Linked DNA regions of Homo sapiens: region 1 is linked to region 2. A link means that fine-mapping ties the variant in region 2 to the expression of a gene that starts in the linked region. Tissue or cell type: spleen. Region 2 holds a variant in brackets; the other region holds the start of a gene. All regions are shown on one strand. Distances are between the middles of the regions.

Region 1 (8,153 bases), 190 kb before region 2:
GGGCTGTCCATGAAGAGATGGTCACCCACTTGTCTGGCCACCCGAATGTGTATTCACCAATTCACTCCTAATTAGAAACCCAAAAATCATTTACGTATTTTCTCGTAAGATTTGGCAAAATGTTCTAGAAACAGTTGCATGGCTACAAGTCATAAACGCCTACCTGTTAAATCTTCATCAAAATATCTTTATTCACTTTGCTCAACCCCTCTGTAGTAACTGGGGTCCTTGTTGCCATGATTTTGTGACAATGGCTCTTGATTTTGGTGACAGATGATGCTAGGTTTATTATGGCCATAGTAAAGACCAAATTCAAAACACTCTTTTCTTTTTTTCCTTTTTTTTTTTCTATACTAGAATATCATTGTTTTGGCTGCACACAAGATGAAGTAAGTGGCTTTCATTTAGAGGCCATGTTTTACCAAAAAATATGTTTCTTAAAATACTAGATTCCCCTCAGCATAATGAGATACTCACTTTTGGGGAGGGTGTCAGAAATTGCTGGAGCAACAGATTAATGATCCCCATTTCAGTTTCACATCAGGCATGGGCTCATTGAACACAATGGCTGGTGGGTGAAGTCACCCATACTGTTAAATTATCCTCTCTCTCTGACTGAACACATATGCTTAAATTAGGATAAAAGTTAGGACTATTCTCAATTGTCTTTTAAAGCTTGAGAGGGGAGTGGGCTCTCACTATGAAGAAAAATATATTTCTTAAGACGGATGATCTTTTTAAATGCTTAAACACCAAGTATATATATTTTCGAACATAGCAAATTGCAATTAATTAATGAATCCACTGAATTTTACCTTCTAGTTGAATTTGCAAGGTCATATGAGTAAACACTGATGTGAATTTTAAGTCTTGGTGACATGTAACAGGAAAGACAAGGTCTAAATTTTAAGAAAAGACTGAAAAGCCACTTACTTCTTGCAAATGGAAGAAAACTCTGTGCTATTTGAATTATTGTTTAAGAAAATCCTATGCAGTTTAAGAAAAACAGGATAAGAACTAACACAAAATGCTGCTTTTCTTTAGACAGATCATTAAGTCTCTCCACCTAAACTCTTGAAAAATCTGTAACGATTTTGTCTGCTTGTCAAATTGCTCCTCCAGTAATTTCACAGTTACAACCCACGCACATATCGACAGAGCATTTCGATTCAAATGTAACTTTCTAACAACAAACTTATATAGAAAAGGTGTCATAGGCGTAATTGAGAGGAACAGAAGATCAAGAGTGAAGAAAATTACATCTTCTTTTCTCAATTAAGAAAAAAACCTAAATCATAAATATTGTATTCATATACATTTACAAACTGATAGACCACTAAACGTTTTTTCTGATTTAAAACTGCTTTCCACCACTGCTGCTGGTGCATATATTAATGAGGAAAAACCCACTGTGACAGAAATCTTCCCCTCACGGCATAGCCACCTCCACCCCCATAAAAGAAAGCTTTTCAGTGTTACCTGAGAAAAAAACATCACAACTAATTACATCATTTTTCTTGGTTCCCGCATCTACCAAGGCTTGCTCAGACACATTCAACCTGTTACCACAATCCATGATTTAACTCAAGGTTTTATTTAGTGTAATGAATATCATTCCTCTATTTAAAATGCTGTTTATCTTTCCTTAAGCAAATTGATCGGCCAATAAGTATCATTATTAGGTATTACAAAAAAGATGTTGTCATAAGGTAATTTATTCTAAGTTAAAATAGTCCACTGAGATGTCTTGTAAGAACAGAAATTACCATTAAAATGTCCCATTTACAATCACTGATGAAAACTTGGGCTATTTGTGCATATAATAAAGGGAGCTGAGGTTTTTTAATTTAAAAATAGATCACATGCTATTAATGTAGATTTTTGTGTTTCTATTACAGATTATCATGAATAAGGGTACTAAGGACTAAAATTGGGAAATCAACTTATCTATTATCTCTTGCTTATATAAAACCTTCATGTATTTAATATCGATGGTCCTTTATTACGTGTGTGTGTGTGTGTGTATGCACCATATATGCCTCAAAGTATGTGTGTGTACATTAAGAGAAGAAACCCAGCATAGCTAAATGGCTAAAAATATGGTAACTATACTGTGCTTCCACCCTATATATTTTATCACATAAAATACAGTTTTTTACGATAAGTGCCTTTATATACATTTGAAATTAACTTTGACAGCTGAATCTTTTTCAACACTACTCTTGAATATTACCTTTATGTAGTATTACCTGTGTTACTGCTTCAGTACTAAGAAAATGAGACCATTTTCTCTGACATTACATAAGCCCGACAGCAGACGAGAGAAACGCTGCCTATCTGGGGTGAAAGCTAGCTCCCTCTGAAGCTACCATTTGACACGTTAAAACAATTCTCGAGTTGATTGAATCATTCCAAATTACCAATATTTGACCATTTCAACCTTCAAAAATGGAAATTTCACTTTAACTCATACAGCCAGATATACCTAGACAAGCTTTAAAAACACATAAAAAAATTTCCTTTAACATTATTACTCAGAAGTTGATTACAGTCAACTATATAGAAAGGAAAATCTTAACGCTTCCATACACCCTGAAAATTTATGAACTTTTGCTCCATCTGCTTAAACCTATATTGCATCCTCGTTTTTAGTTTTTATTTTTTAAAGATTGTTTTAAAAAGGTGCACCAATCAAAAGATAATTAATGGTCTTGGTCTTTGTTCTATCAGATGTCCATGCAAAGATATGGATAATGGTTCCATCACCAAATTTTTAACTAACTCCAAATATTGTATTTGTGGCTCACACTAGGGATCCCTTGACCCAGCTCGGCAAGTGTGAAATCACGAAATAAATGAAGGTTAACAAAGACTGGTCTAAGGAATAGTTCACTACAATACCGCAATGCTCTTCTCACTAATACTCGACTCTGCATTTCGGTACTTATATCTGAAAGATTTGCAAATAATGACAACATTCGTGCCAGACATTACTGCAAGTGAGGAACAGACTAAAGGAGAGGAAGGAACAAAATGCCTTCCAAGAGAGAAACATTCATTAGCCTTACTGGCAAGTGTCTAAAGCAAACAAGGAAACTGCAAAATAATTACTTAGTTACAAATAAACGCTTTTAGCACAGTACCTTTTTGTGTCTGTCCCTCTTCCATATTCTCTTCCATGGCTACCTTTCTTCAGTAGAATCTGGTACACGGAATTAATCAAAAGCTCAATTAGATGTTGGAAAAACTGGGGGTTTTTTTTTTTTTTTTTTTTTTTTTTTTTTTTTTTTTTTCCTGGGAAGCTCCAACAGCAGTGGCTTGGGCAAGTCCTCAGAGCTTAGCTCAGGCTCCCTCGTTCCTCTTGTTTGCTTGGAGACAGGCTGTCAAGTGTAATTTCATTCAAATTACTCTTCCGTGAAGATTATCAATTTTTCTTCTCAAAGCTGCCCATTGTGTACCACTGTAAGCAGGTATTCAAACAAATAGCCTGAGAATTTTGGGGGGAAATTTGGTCTGAATCCCAGGAGCAGAGACACTATGATTCACAAGTCTTGCTTTGCATTTAAAATGGGGAAAAGAAATTGAGGTTTGTATTGAAATCTGGGCTTTAAATTGGAAACAGGCTGAGCTGTGAACAGATGGAGGGGTGTCCTCCTAACATGAAGCCGACCACCAACCCGTAATTCCCCCCTTCATTCCAGAGTGGGAAAGCCCAGATTCCCGTCGGTTCTTTATGCTGCAGCAGTGGCTTCTCACCCAGTCAGATACGTTGCAAAAAAACTGTGTTTTCCTTTTCTCTCCTCACTAAGTATTTAGTTAATTTGATTTAAGGTGCCAAGAAAGGATGCAGTTATACCATCTCAGGGTTTATCTGCAAAAGTTTATTACTAAGACAGGACTTGTAATCCCACACCTTTGAGATTTAAAAAGAAATAGAAGCGTGGCTGTCAAAGGAGTGAGTATAAAGCTCTAAGCCTGAGAGATACATGTTTTAAGTAATTATTTTACTTAGTGCCATATGACTCTTAAGTAAAAGGGAGAAAACCACTGGAAGGAAAAACCCTATTGATGTCTTTGTTATTTATTGTTATGATTATAGCCCACGAAAGCTGCTGGTTTCCAATGAGAATCTCTTGAAAGGGAATTTCTTTAAAGGTCAGTGTTAGGGAATGAGAAGAGTGATGTAAGGGAGGAACAAATTTTAGATAAGAAACAAGAGGATAGCAATTTATAATGGGAATCTGCAAGCTGATTTGGAATGCAAATCACAATGCTGCAGTCTGGCGATAATTAGCATTTGTACTTCAGCCTACTGAGTGACAGGGCACAGTCCAAGAGTCTCAATACTTCACAAAAGGTATAGCAAGAAAATAAACAGTATCTCTTTCAAGGAGCATAAACCTTTCCTAGAGTAGAAAGAAAGGATCCTTGCCTCTGTCTTCATCTCCAAATCAGCCAGCACACACACACACAGGGACAGAAACACACACAGAGGGACAGAAAGACACACACAAGCACACACACGGAGAGGCACACACACACACAAGGACACACACACAGACATAACTGTAACTCTCTGCCTTTAATGAAAAATAGCTCACATCCTCATTATCCATAGCATACGTTTCTTGCATTATAGCTTGTATTTCACATGCATTCTTTAAAGCAGGCCAGTAGCATGCTGCACATCACCCTCTAAATATTACAAAAGCAGCTATTTAGAGGAAACACAATTACTGCATTCCACTTTATTTCTCATAAATGAATGTTTAGTCCTCTTACTTGTATAATCATTTGTTATTATTTTCTCTTTTCAAATGAATTTTGTCCAAAAATAACTGGAGTTCAAATAACTCAAAACCTATCTCTTTGGAATATATATCAATGTGTATTCAAGGGTTTTTGAGAGAGCTGCTTGCTCAGTGCACAGATTGAGAGAGAGAAACCATAAGGGAAATCAAAAAGCCAAATTGTAGCAGCCTCTCTGCTTCAACTCATCCCTAGGCTGACATAACCTGGCATATAATCAACACAGAACGGAGCAACGCTCCTCATTTAGATCCTTCATTCGTTTTATACCATGGAAATCATTAGTGAAAGCAATTGTTTATTGTAGTGCCAGTAGATACAATAATGTCACCTTAAATTTTTAGAACACTTTACAATCTATAAAACATGATTACATACATTAACCCGTTGTAAGTCAAATGGGAAAAGCATAATTTTCCCCACTTTATGATGAAAACAAAAAACAAAAAACACGGATGCTCAGGGACACCTAGAGACTGGGCTAATAAATCACCAAGTAAGTCTTAGAACCCATGTCTGTTGATTTCTTGCCTAATGTTCTGATCTTAGAAGCTAATTTTCCTTCCTACTCTGTTCCTTTATGAGTATCTTCAGCATCTTCAGAAATCAGCCTCAGTTCATAGCTTTCTTTTTCACCACACATATAAAGCAAAAGAGGGAAATGAGAGGGAAAGGAAATTTTAAAAATATTCATGATTTCTTTTTCTTCTGGAAATTTTGCAGCAGAATACACTCATATAACCATTCACTTTTTGTCTAAAACAGGCTTTTTCATGTGACAATTGTTACCAACATAAGTCAACATCAACTTGTACCAATTTTTAAAATATACAAAAAAGTCCTCAGAGCCAGTCCAAATGGACTCGTCAAATGAATTAAGAGAGATGCATACACATACATAGCCTCCTCACAGCAATCACCTGTCAGTAGGCTTTCAGTATTTATTGGGGTAAAATATAAAAGAAAAATTTGCCATTTTGATCATTTTTAAATCTGTAGTTCAGTGGCATTAGGTACATTCACATCATTCTGTAACCATGGCCACCAGCTATCTCCAGGACTTTTTCATCTCCACAAACTGAAACTCTGTGCCCATTAAAAACGCACTCCTCCTTTCCCCTTCCTCCTGTTTGATGGCAGTTGAGTTGTTGATGATTTTCTCTTTTTTTTTTGAGATGGAGTCTCGTTCTTTTGCCCAGGCCAGAGTGCAGTGGCATGATCTCAGCTCACTGCAACTTCTGCCTCCAGGGTTTGAGCAATTCTCCTGCCTCAGCCTCCCGAGTAGCTGGGATTTCAGGCATGCACCACCACACCCAGTTAGTTTTTGTATTTTTAGTGGAGACCGGGTTGGTTTCACCATGTTGGCCAGGCTGGTGTCAAATTCCTGACCTCAGGTGATCCACCCACCTCGGCCTCCCAGAGTGCTGGGATTACAGGCGTGAGCCACCAAGCCCAGCCAAGTTGTTGTTGCTAATGGTGGTTTTAAGATTATTTTTTAAAATTTGGATCTCATTGGAAGTAAAAATATTTTGAACCTCCAGTATCTTAAACTAGTTAGAAAAGAAAATCGTTTCACATTATAGTAGATTTGCTTTATTAATTATAAAATATACTATATAAAGCTTAATAACTAGCAATGATGTGTCCTTATGGGGACTGAAATGCCTCATCTAATACTCTTTCCATTGTATCGTATTGTATTTGCCCCATTCTACTCTTAGTCATTTATTTAAAATATATGGGCTGTAGGCAGTGGCTCATGCCTGTAATCAAAACACATTTTGAGGCCAGGAGTTTGAGACCAGCCTAGGCAACATAGACAGTCCTCATCACTACAAATATTTTCTACTCTTTTTCTTTTCTTTTTTTTTTTTTTTTGAGATGGAGTTTTGCTCTTGTTGACCAGGCTGGAGTGCAATGGCATGATCTCAGCTCACTAGAACCTCTGCCTCCCGGATTCAAGCGATTCTCCTGCCTCAGCCTCCCAAGTATCGAGGATTACAGGCATGTGTCACCATGCCCAGTTAATTTTGTATTTTTAGCAGAGACGGGGTTTCTCCATGTTGGTCAGGCTGGTCTCGAACTCCCAACCTCAGGTGATCCGCCTACCTCGGCCTCCCAAAGTGCTGGGATTACAGGCGTGAGCCACCACACCTGGCCATTACAGACACTTTAAAAAAACAAATTATCCAACCATGGTGGTGCACACCTATAGTCCCAGCTACTGGGGAGGCTGAGGCAGGGGAATCACGGGAGCCCGGGAGGTTGAGGCTGCAGTGAGCTATGCTCACATCACCGCACTGCAGCCTGGGCCACAGGGTAGGACCCTGCCTCTAAAAAATAAAATAAAACAAATATAAGTTAACTAGGTGGTTAAAAATATGATTATATTTTTATCAAGTCAGATTTCCCTTTCAAATACTGTCTAAGAAATGTTTATAATGTATATTACTTTTTTCTTATGTGAGCTCACTCAATCCAAAACCATTATAATTCTCTTTCATTTTTCTTAATCTTAATTTGGAGCTTCCTTTAACACTTCATCTTGTCTTTATGGATAAACACATTATTATATACAATAAGTAAATATCGACATATTCCTCTATTATGTAATGCAGTCATCTTTGTGATACAATGTTCATAATATAGACAAGTAAGGAGAGTTAACAGATTAAAGAAGTTGTGGTTCCAAATATCGCATTAACTATAAAAAGTGAGGGGGAAAAATGTTCGTAGTCCCTGGGTCAGAGAACAGAGAGGAGATGTGGAAAAGAAGATCATGAAAACCTAGCCCAGTGCATAGGACTAACAGGCAGGAACACGGTTTAGAAACTGCCTTTTATTCTACGTCAAATGTTTCAGACACAGAATTAACATTATCTCTAGAATGAAATGTCTTAGTTGGGATCTTCTTATATTTTGACAGAGAAAAAGGACCCCTTTGTCTGCTGCTTTAAGCTCCAAGTCAGAAACTGACTTTCATAACATTTTCTTTTCTTTTTTTTATTTTTATTTTTTTTTTGAGACGGAGTCTCGCTCAAAGCCCAGGCTGGAGTGCAGCGGCGCGGTCTCGGCTCACTGCAAGCTCCGCCTCCCGGGTTCACGCCATTCTCCTGCCTCAGCCTCCCGAGGAGCTGGGACTACACCCCGCCACCACGCCCGGCTAATTTTTTTTGTATTTGTAGTAGAGATGGGGTTTCACCGTGGTAGCCAGGATGGTCTCGATCTCCTGACTTCGTGATCCGCCCGCCTCGGCCTCCCAAAGTGCTGGGATTACGGGCGTGAGCCACCGCCCCGCGGCCAACATTTTCTTAAAGAAAGTCAAAACCACCACAAACACTGCA
Region 2 (8,153 bases):
AATAAAGCAAGCTCCTAAACAGTTCACTACAAAGCATCTAGTTGATTGTGACAAGAGGATATTGAGCAAAGGATTTATGCTAATTGACCTACATTCCAGTTTATGACCAACTCCACTCTAAATAAAATGAACAGTACCCTACAATAGCCTTAGAAACTTCAGACTCAAGGGAAAATAAGGAAGATTAGCTGATTTTATTTGAAACTATTTTGAGTGGAGCTTATCCCAGTATTCTACCAACACATTTCCACCCAGGCATGAATTTCCACACTCAAATGTTTTGCTGTGAAATTTTAGTGTGACTGTTTAGATTTCTTCATGTTTCTAATTAAAAATTTAGTCTTTAATCATGTTTTTCTCAGGACTTGTGCTGAGTTTTCAGTTGTAAACCCAATGTGAAGCACACTTAACAAGACAGCTCTTTTAGGAATTAGATCAATTAGTCGGCTACCCTCAATTTCTCCTTTCCTCGTATGAGCTGGCTGCTCCTCACATCAAGGAAAAGCGATGTCCTGGGATTTCTGATGCTAGATCATAAGAATCTTTGCAGCTTCTGCTTGGGTTTTTTGGAACATTCATTCTTGGGATGCTGCCTCTTGAAACCTAGCCACCATTTTGTGGAAAACCCAAGCCACTTCAGGACAGCCCGAGATAAACTCGTAGTCAACAGCTGGCATCAACTGCCAGCTATATATATGTGAGCTCTCTTGGACGACCAGTCCAATCCTGTCTTCAGATGGCTGAATCCCCTGCTGTCATCAGGCTTCCAAGGCAGGAGACTTCAAATGAGGATTGCTCAGCAGACAGTCAGCCCTCAGAACCGTGAATGAAAATAATAAATTGTTGTTTTAATCCACTAGTTTGGGAGATCATTTTATGCAGCAATAAATGCTTAGAACATGACTTTTATCTTCTTCCGCTGAGGTTGGGACTCTTATCAGACTTTGTGATTTTCTAAGGAAAATAACACACTAGAAGCCAAATGATCAAAAGTATTATCCAGTACTCTAGCATCATAAAAGTGTTCTTGATTTGCTTAATGGAAATAGCTTAATCTTATCTTCTTTACATGTTTTTTTTTTCTCTAATAGTTACTGGATCAAGAGCTGAGCTACATAAATTTATAGAACCTTGCCCAACCTTCTCATCAAACAAATGAGGAAACAGGATCCCAGAGATTTATAGGACCCATTCAAAGGCATAAGGGATTATCATCTGCTTCTCCTATTTCAAACCTTGGCTCTTGTACCTTGTTCATAACTGTCTCGAGGGTGTCATAGTTTTCCTGAAAAAAAAGGTATGAGCTCAAGACAATACTGTGTGTCATTATTTTTTGTCTAAATTTGCAAACAATTTTACAGATACTTAACCAACTCCATTGTTACTCAAATTGAGTAAGAGCAAAATATTTCCATTGGATATTTTTCTCTTGTCAAAATGTGTATACTCTTAAATCTAATGTGGAATGTTTAAGTTGTCACATTTCACTGTTCTTATGTTGGGGCATTTAGTACGTATCATGCAGTTGGCATCCTTCTTCAATCAAACAGGATTTATCCTTTCCCTCCCTGTCCCTCAACCAGTACTCCTTATACTCACACTTTCAAATAGATAATTCATTTCATGGGTTTTCCTCTCACTAAAGGTTGGTAACCCTTTCATCTTTGTTTTCCTTTTTGTTCCTGTGTTCTGATTAAATTCTCATTATGTGTTCCTAACATACTAAATATTTGTGTTTAGATGTCTTGCTATTACCTCTTTTTTTTTTTCCTTTTTGTTTGAGACTGAGTCTCTCTCTGTTGTCCAGGCTGGAGTGTAGTGGCATGATCTCGGCTCACTGCAACCTCTGCCTCATGGGTTCAAGCGATTCTCGTGCTTCAGCTTCCCGAGTAGCTGGGATTACAGGCGTGTGCCACCACACCCGGCTACTGTTTGTAATTTTAGTAGAGACGGTCTCACTATGTTGCTCAGGTTGGTCTCAAACACCTGGCTTCAACTGATCCACCCAGCTCGTCCTGCCTCTCAAAGTGCTGAGATTACAGGCGTGAGCCACCGCACCCGGCCTTGCTATCACTTCTTAATAACATTTCAAATATGAAATTAATTTCTTGTCCAAAACATGCAGAAAGTAAACCATTGGGTTTATCCTTTAAATATTCTATCAAGGAACCCACTGCTTCCCCAGTCTTCAAGATTTCAAATTTCTAGACAAAATCTTCTATTCATTCTCTTATTGCTCCATTTCCTAATTTTATAGATTTTTCACTTGACCTATCTCTCATCAATCTTTTGCTCTCCGGTTCCACTGGCTTAGACATGTATCATATTCTATTATTATCATATCATATATATCATATAATATTATTCCCAAACTGGTTTAGGCATATATCATATTATCCCAGGATTACTGTGACAACTGGATCTGTCTTCTCCAACTAATTCTGTTTTAAACAACATTTTCACTAATCTCATTATGTCTTCCCTGCTCAAAAACCTTCCATGACACCCTACCTCCTATCATTGCTTTTAAAAGCTCTCCAAAATCAAATCCCATCCTGTCAATCCAGCTCCATGTCTTACTGTTCCCCAAACACACCTCCTTACTGCCATGAGAAGGAGCTCCTTATTCTACCTAGAACCACTTCCTTTCCAAATGTTTCACATTCCTCCAAGACAGGTTCAGTACCACTCCCATTAAACTTTTCATAATATCTGTCAAACTAAATCATATTCAACATCATTTTTAAACAAAACAGTAATCAATGGTCTCATAGTGATATACATGTAGTCTCATAGTGATATACATGTAGTCAAGTAGAACAGTAAGTGTTGTGTTCAGGAGAAAATGTAAAAATATTCCTGACCTATCTTTCCAATGGGGCCTGAAATTCCACAATTAGAGATTCGCAGGTTAAAGTTCATCTTAAAGTTAAAATGTAAATACTCTTAGCAATGTGTTAGCCCTGCAGTTTTTTTAGTATCAACTATTTTGTTGCATCCTTTCTGCAGAGTGAAATTTTGCAGTGGAGGGATAGCCCTGCTGCATACCTAGAGAAGCCGAGGACATCAATGAGGAAATCAAACAATAAAAGGAAGAGATGCCAAAATTGCAATTTG[C/T]CTACTTTGCAAATAACTTTTTTTTTTTTTTACAATCAGCCTTGTGCATTATGGATATGAAGGACTATAAATTATTCAGAATGTTTGATTAACCAATTACTCTCATTCTTCCACAGTGCTAGAGTTCAGATTTCTTCTTCTAAGACAAATGAGAATTGATTGCTACATTCATCCCCAGAACACTATCTTCCTTTCTTTAAGTGATAAATTTTGGTTTTCATGATACCAGGAAAAAAACAAAAACAAAACAAAACAAAAAAACTGGATTCCATTTGTTGGCGCAATCCAGCATTCTCCTACGCTGTTTTTCCCTCTTATCCTAGCCATTTGGACTCTAATGCTAAACTCCCTACCATCCCTACTACCACTAAATAGAAGAGGTTCTGAGTAGTGAAGTTTTATTTTTCATAAGTAAATTAAAAGAAAGAGGAGAGATATGGCCTTAAGTGGCCAAATGTTTTCTATTTCCCCTATGCACTTCCTTCCTGCTTTCCCCACTTTGCCCCTCTTATTGGCTCTTCCTAGTCTCTGGACTGCATACTTGAATCTCTGTCCTGAGTTCTGGCTTCATGCTGTCACTCTCCCCTGCTACAGGCCTGCTCTTTTCTCTATTTCGCTCACCTCTGGCTTCCTCACTTGCTTCCTCTACTTCCATCTAAAGAGAGTTCAGGAATATTTTTAATCTGTCCTACTAGGCCCCTGACTACGTAAGTTTTTGGTGACCTCAATTACAACAGGAAAAATGTTATCCACTTCTGGCAGTAGAAGGAACAAACAAATTTTAGGTATCTGTCAGATTACAGACAGGAAAGAGAACTTCTAAGAGTTACAGACCAAGCTTTGGATCCTGACAACTCAGCTGTTAACTCCACACCATCCCCCACAACAAAATCTTCCTATAATTAGGGATGATTGTTAATTATCCATGGGCATTGAAGCAAAATCCAGGACAAATTGTTTTCACTATAGTAAGGAAATGGAAATTAAAAATAATTAAGTTTGAAATTATGAATACCTTACCTTTGATAGCCAGTCCTCTCGAGCTTGAGGTTACAAGGGTAAATTATGTAATTCTTTCTAGACATTTTATTATGTTGGATCCAAATGGCATTTTAATGCTTTTAATACAGCTAATGAATAGACTACATCAAGTCAATTATTTTGACTTTCCATTTCTGACAGCTTTTCTCCTGTGTGAGCATAGAAACAAGAGTTTATAGGCTCAAGTGGTCAAGTAGAACAGCAAGTGTTGGGTTTAGGAGAAAAATTTAAAATATTCCGGACCTGTCTTTCCAATGGAACACAACACTTAACAACCAAATAAAAAAAAGAGCCTGAAATACTCTCTGCCACACTTGGGAAAATGTTTTATCTTTCTTTTTTAACCTGAAAATACTCCTTCCTTTTCAGAAAACATTTAAAGACAGTCCTTCTTAAGACCATTTCCAACACTGTTTATACAAAGGCCCTAAAAATGGGTCCTTCTAAGACACTTCCAGGGGTCAAGCAAGAAGAGACTATGAAAGTCTTGATCACAGCTAACATTCATAGGCAAAAATGTCCTCAGCTTTCTCTTTTTTCCTTTCTTCCAAGTTGGCTACTGTCTATAAACTCCAGAAATTAGTAGTCAAAGCATCCCCTAACCCTTGAGCCTGTGGGAATACAGGAATTTCAACCCGAGCACGTCAGTCCCCAAGGCCTCCTTTACTCTTGGAGAAATCCCTCACAACAAAGGACAAGGGAGAAGCAAGGGGGAGGGGCGCCCAGTGGACTTGGCTGGAAGAAGTGAGCGGGCTGGGGTTGGAAGAGTAACTCGGGCTGCGGGCTGAACGCAGTCGGCAACCGCGGAAGAGCAGCATCTCCCCTGCGCCTGTGGATACGCCAGTCCAGGGATGGCGAGTGCTTTCTCCTCCCCAGCTTCTCCCTCGCTCTTCGAGGTGACTCGTGGGACCCTGCGTCCTAGTGCTGGGTGTGAATCGGCTATTTCACACCCAGTTCTTCCTCCCCTCCGCCACACGCAGTCACATTCCTGGAGCTATTCCAAGCTGCCTCCGCTAAGCACCGAATAAGCGGACCCTGCCTGGAAACTTGAGCGAAGCTGAACTGCGCCGAACTCCACCGTCCAGTGACCCGAGCCAGTGTGGACGCCCTTTTAATCACGCTGTTTACCCAGGTGGAATTTAGGAAGAATCAGCCTTCAGCCTCAACCTCAAACCTTTTGTGCAAATGGGCACTTCGTTTGGAAAGGGACTAGAAATTGTCCCCAGTCTGGCCCTGCACCAGCACCTTCCTCTGCTCAAACCTGTACAAAGTGGAAGTTTTAGGAAGTTTCCATTTCTCGTGCCCCGTTTCAACTTGCTCCCCAAAGAGAACATGAAAACGTGGGAACTCGGGAGGACAGAGATCTCCCTGTAATCGCCTCGCTATTCGGATCCTGGGTCTCTTAGTCTTTCTTTATTTCCCAAATACCGCCCCCAGCACGGTAGACCGGACCCCCAGGCTTGGGTCCTGGGGCCGGCGCAGAGGATCAGCGCCCAAGCGCAGCCCCCCACCCTCCCGACCCACTGTAAACAGTCGGGCACCCTCCCTCGCCTCCAGGTGCCACCCCATCGCCATCGCCTCTCTCCCAGAAAAAAAAGTCCGGAGACAAGAGGGCGGGGGGCGGGGGACGCCAGGCGCGGGGGGAACAGAGCTGGGAAGGACGCAGTCTGAGGCCGAGGAACATTCATTTTCTTTCTATAATGCCCATTCCCGAGGCCGAGCCTTTGGGCGAGGTGTACGCGCCCGCCCGCGCACTCACCCATGGCCCGAGGTCCTGCTTCTCTGCAGTCCCCAGAGGAGAGCGAGTGACCAGACGCTGCGCGGGGCCAAGTTCTCCAAGCCGCGCTGAGGCTCCTCGCGCCCTGGCAAGTGACAGCCTCGCCCCTCCCAGCGGAGACAACTCGCAGGGCGCCTGGCGACTCTGCGGGCGCACAGACCCCTCCCTCTTTCCACCTGCCTCCTCTGCGAGAAGCCCGTTTTCCTCCCCTTCACTGTGGGTCTCCTCCCCAGAGGCCCCCACCCTGCCCCCTTTCACTTTCATTAGAGACACGTGCAAAGTCTCTCTCCTAAATACATTGAATGCACATTACAGACACACACGTTGTCTCAGCACCCCACAACCGACTCGGTAGCCAAGATAATGATCTCTAAGTGGAGTCTGGAAATAGATTATTCCAAAAGACAGGTTTCATATGATAATTTTATGTTCCCTTGTCTTCTGTGTACCATTTTGTTTCTTAATGATAATAACATTAATAAAGACAAGAGGAAGAGAAAATTCTCCCTTTAATTTATCCTTTGTCATCTCCTCTTTCTTCTACATAAAATATGTTTCTGTAATTGGACAAGGTTATAAAGTTCTAAAAACCATACACTCAAACACACATGCACACACCCTGACATACACACACACACACATCATAATATGCAGAAATCACCTGGAAAATAAACAATTCAATCCAAGAGGCAGTTGATGAGGCTGAAAGAGCACAGGGCTTGACAGTTGAGAGGATGAGTTGTAATCCTGGCTCATTTCCTAATTTGTAAAATGAAGGATCTGGAAAAAGTGATCTCTAAGGTCTCCTCAAGCTAAAAAAAAAAAAAAAATTATATAACTCTATGGGTTATTGACCTAGTTCTTTCAAGAGTCATACTGGAGAAGTTATTTCAGTAAGTCAGTCCCCAAGGTGTACACAGCTTTTTCATGCAAAGCACACCCAAAAGTATACATATCTATGCTGTGAGCAAGTGGAAGAATAAAATAAAATGGATATGATTACTTACCTTGAGGAACATTGCTATCTAATGGGGAAAAGGTGATATGAAAAATAAATAACAATATTTTTAGCAGAATGCATGGATAAATGCAGAGCATATCATTCAAATGCCACATAAACATCTGCACAGCTCTTTCTCACGTAATGGAAGAGGTATACTCCTGGCAGGGGTGTGTAAATGCACTTCAGTTACATGGGAATACAGTTATTCTTATGGGAGGGGAAAGGAAGTAGTCAACAAAAATTAAAAGTGTTCAACATATCATTCAGAAATGCATCACCCTTCTAGAAATTGACTAACATGAACTGTGACTGTAGCAAAGCATAACACTAATACATTTGTTCAATAAATATAAGTTGCTGGCTCACACTTGTACTTCTGGCACTTACAGAGCCTGAGGCAGGTATATCCCTGAAGCTCAGGAGTTTGAGATCAGCCTGGGCAACATAGTGAGACCTCGTCTCTCCAAAAAAATAAACAAAAAATTAGCTTGGTGTGGTGGTGCACGCCTGTAGTCCCAGCTACTTGGGAGGCTGAGGTGGAAGGATCACTTTATCCTGGGAGGTTAAGGCTGCAGTGAGCCAAGACTGCACCACTGCACTTCAGCCTGGACAACAGAGTGAGACCGTGTCTCAAAAAAAAAAAAAAAGATAAGTGATAGATTTTGGAGATTGATTCATAAGCTCAGTTTTAGGATCACCACAAGCAACTTACAATCTATCTCCTGAAGACTTATTCAAAATAATATTTGAATTCTAAAAATTAGAACTGTTTTTTGTTTTTTTCCCATCGGATTCTATGATAATCCTGAAATACAAAATAATAATTATAACATAAACTGAGTACAGTGTGCTAAGTGTCAGGCATTGTACTAAGGGCTTCATATTAGCTAATATAATTCTCACTAAAAAAGGAAAATACTGTTATCCCCACTTTACAGATGAGGGAATTAATCCACAAAGAGATTAAACACTTGCCCAAATTCTCATAATAAATGGGAATGCAAAATTCATACCCAGGACAAAATACTCCAGAGTTCATGATCTTAGTCAGTTAACCACATTGTTTCTCAGTATCCAACTGGTTTGCCACATGCTTGAGAAAGATGGTGATATCTTCCAACAATAAATATAATTCATAATTTTTTTTTTTTTTTTTTGAGACAGAGTCTGGCTCAGTCACCCAGGCTAGAGTGCAATGGCGCCATCTCGGCTCAC

The links. PIP is the estimated chance that this variant, and not a neighbour inherited with it, causes the effect.
Region 1: GPM6A starts here. The variant in region 2 is fine-mapped to the expression of GPM6A in spleen (GTEx, PIP above 0.99).

Annotation. Positions count from the first base shown.
Region 1 is chr4:175,809,048-175,817,200 of GRCh38, forward strand. It overlaps GPM6A (glycoprotein M6A), which reads right to left and starts at 3,217. Exons shown (of 7, transcript NM_201591.3): 1 at 3,144-3,217. The coding sequence starts at 3,180. GPM6A-DT (GPM6A divergent transcript) reads left to right here. Exons shown (of 8, transcript NR_125901.1): 8 at 2,813-3,142.
Region 2 is chr4:175,996,392-176,004,544 of GRCh38, forward strand. It overlaps a transcript of GPM6A not described here. Among named protein-coding and RNA genes, the nearest start is that of WDR17, 65 kb to the right of the region's middle. The variant C/T (reference allele first, on the strand shown) is at 3,118.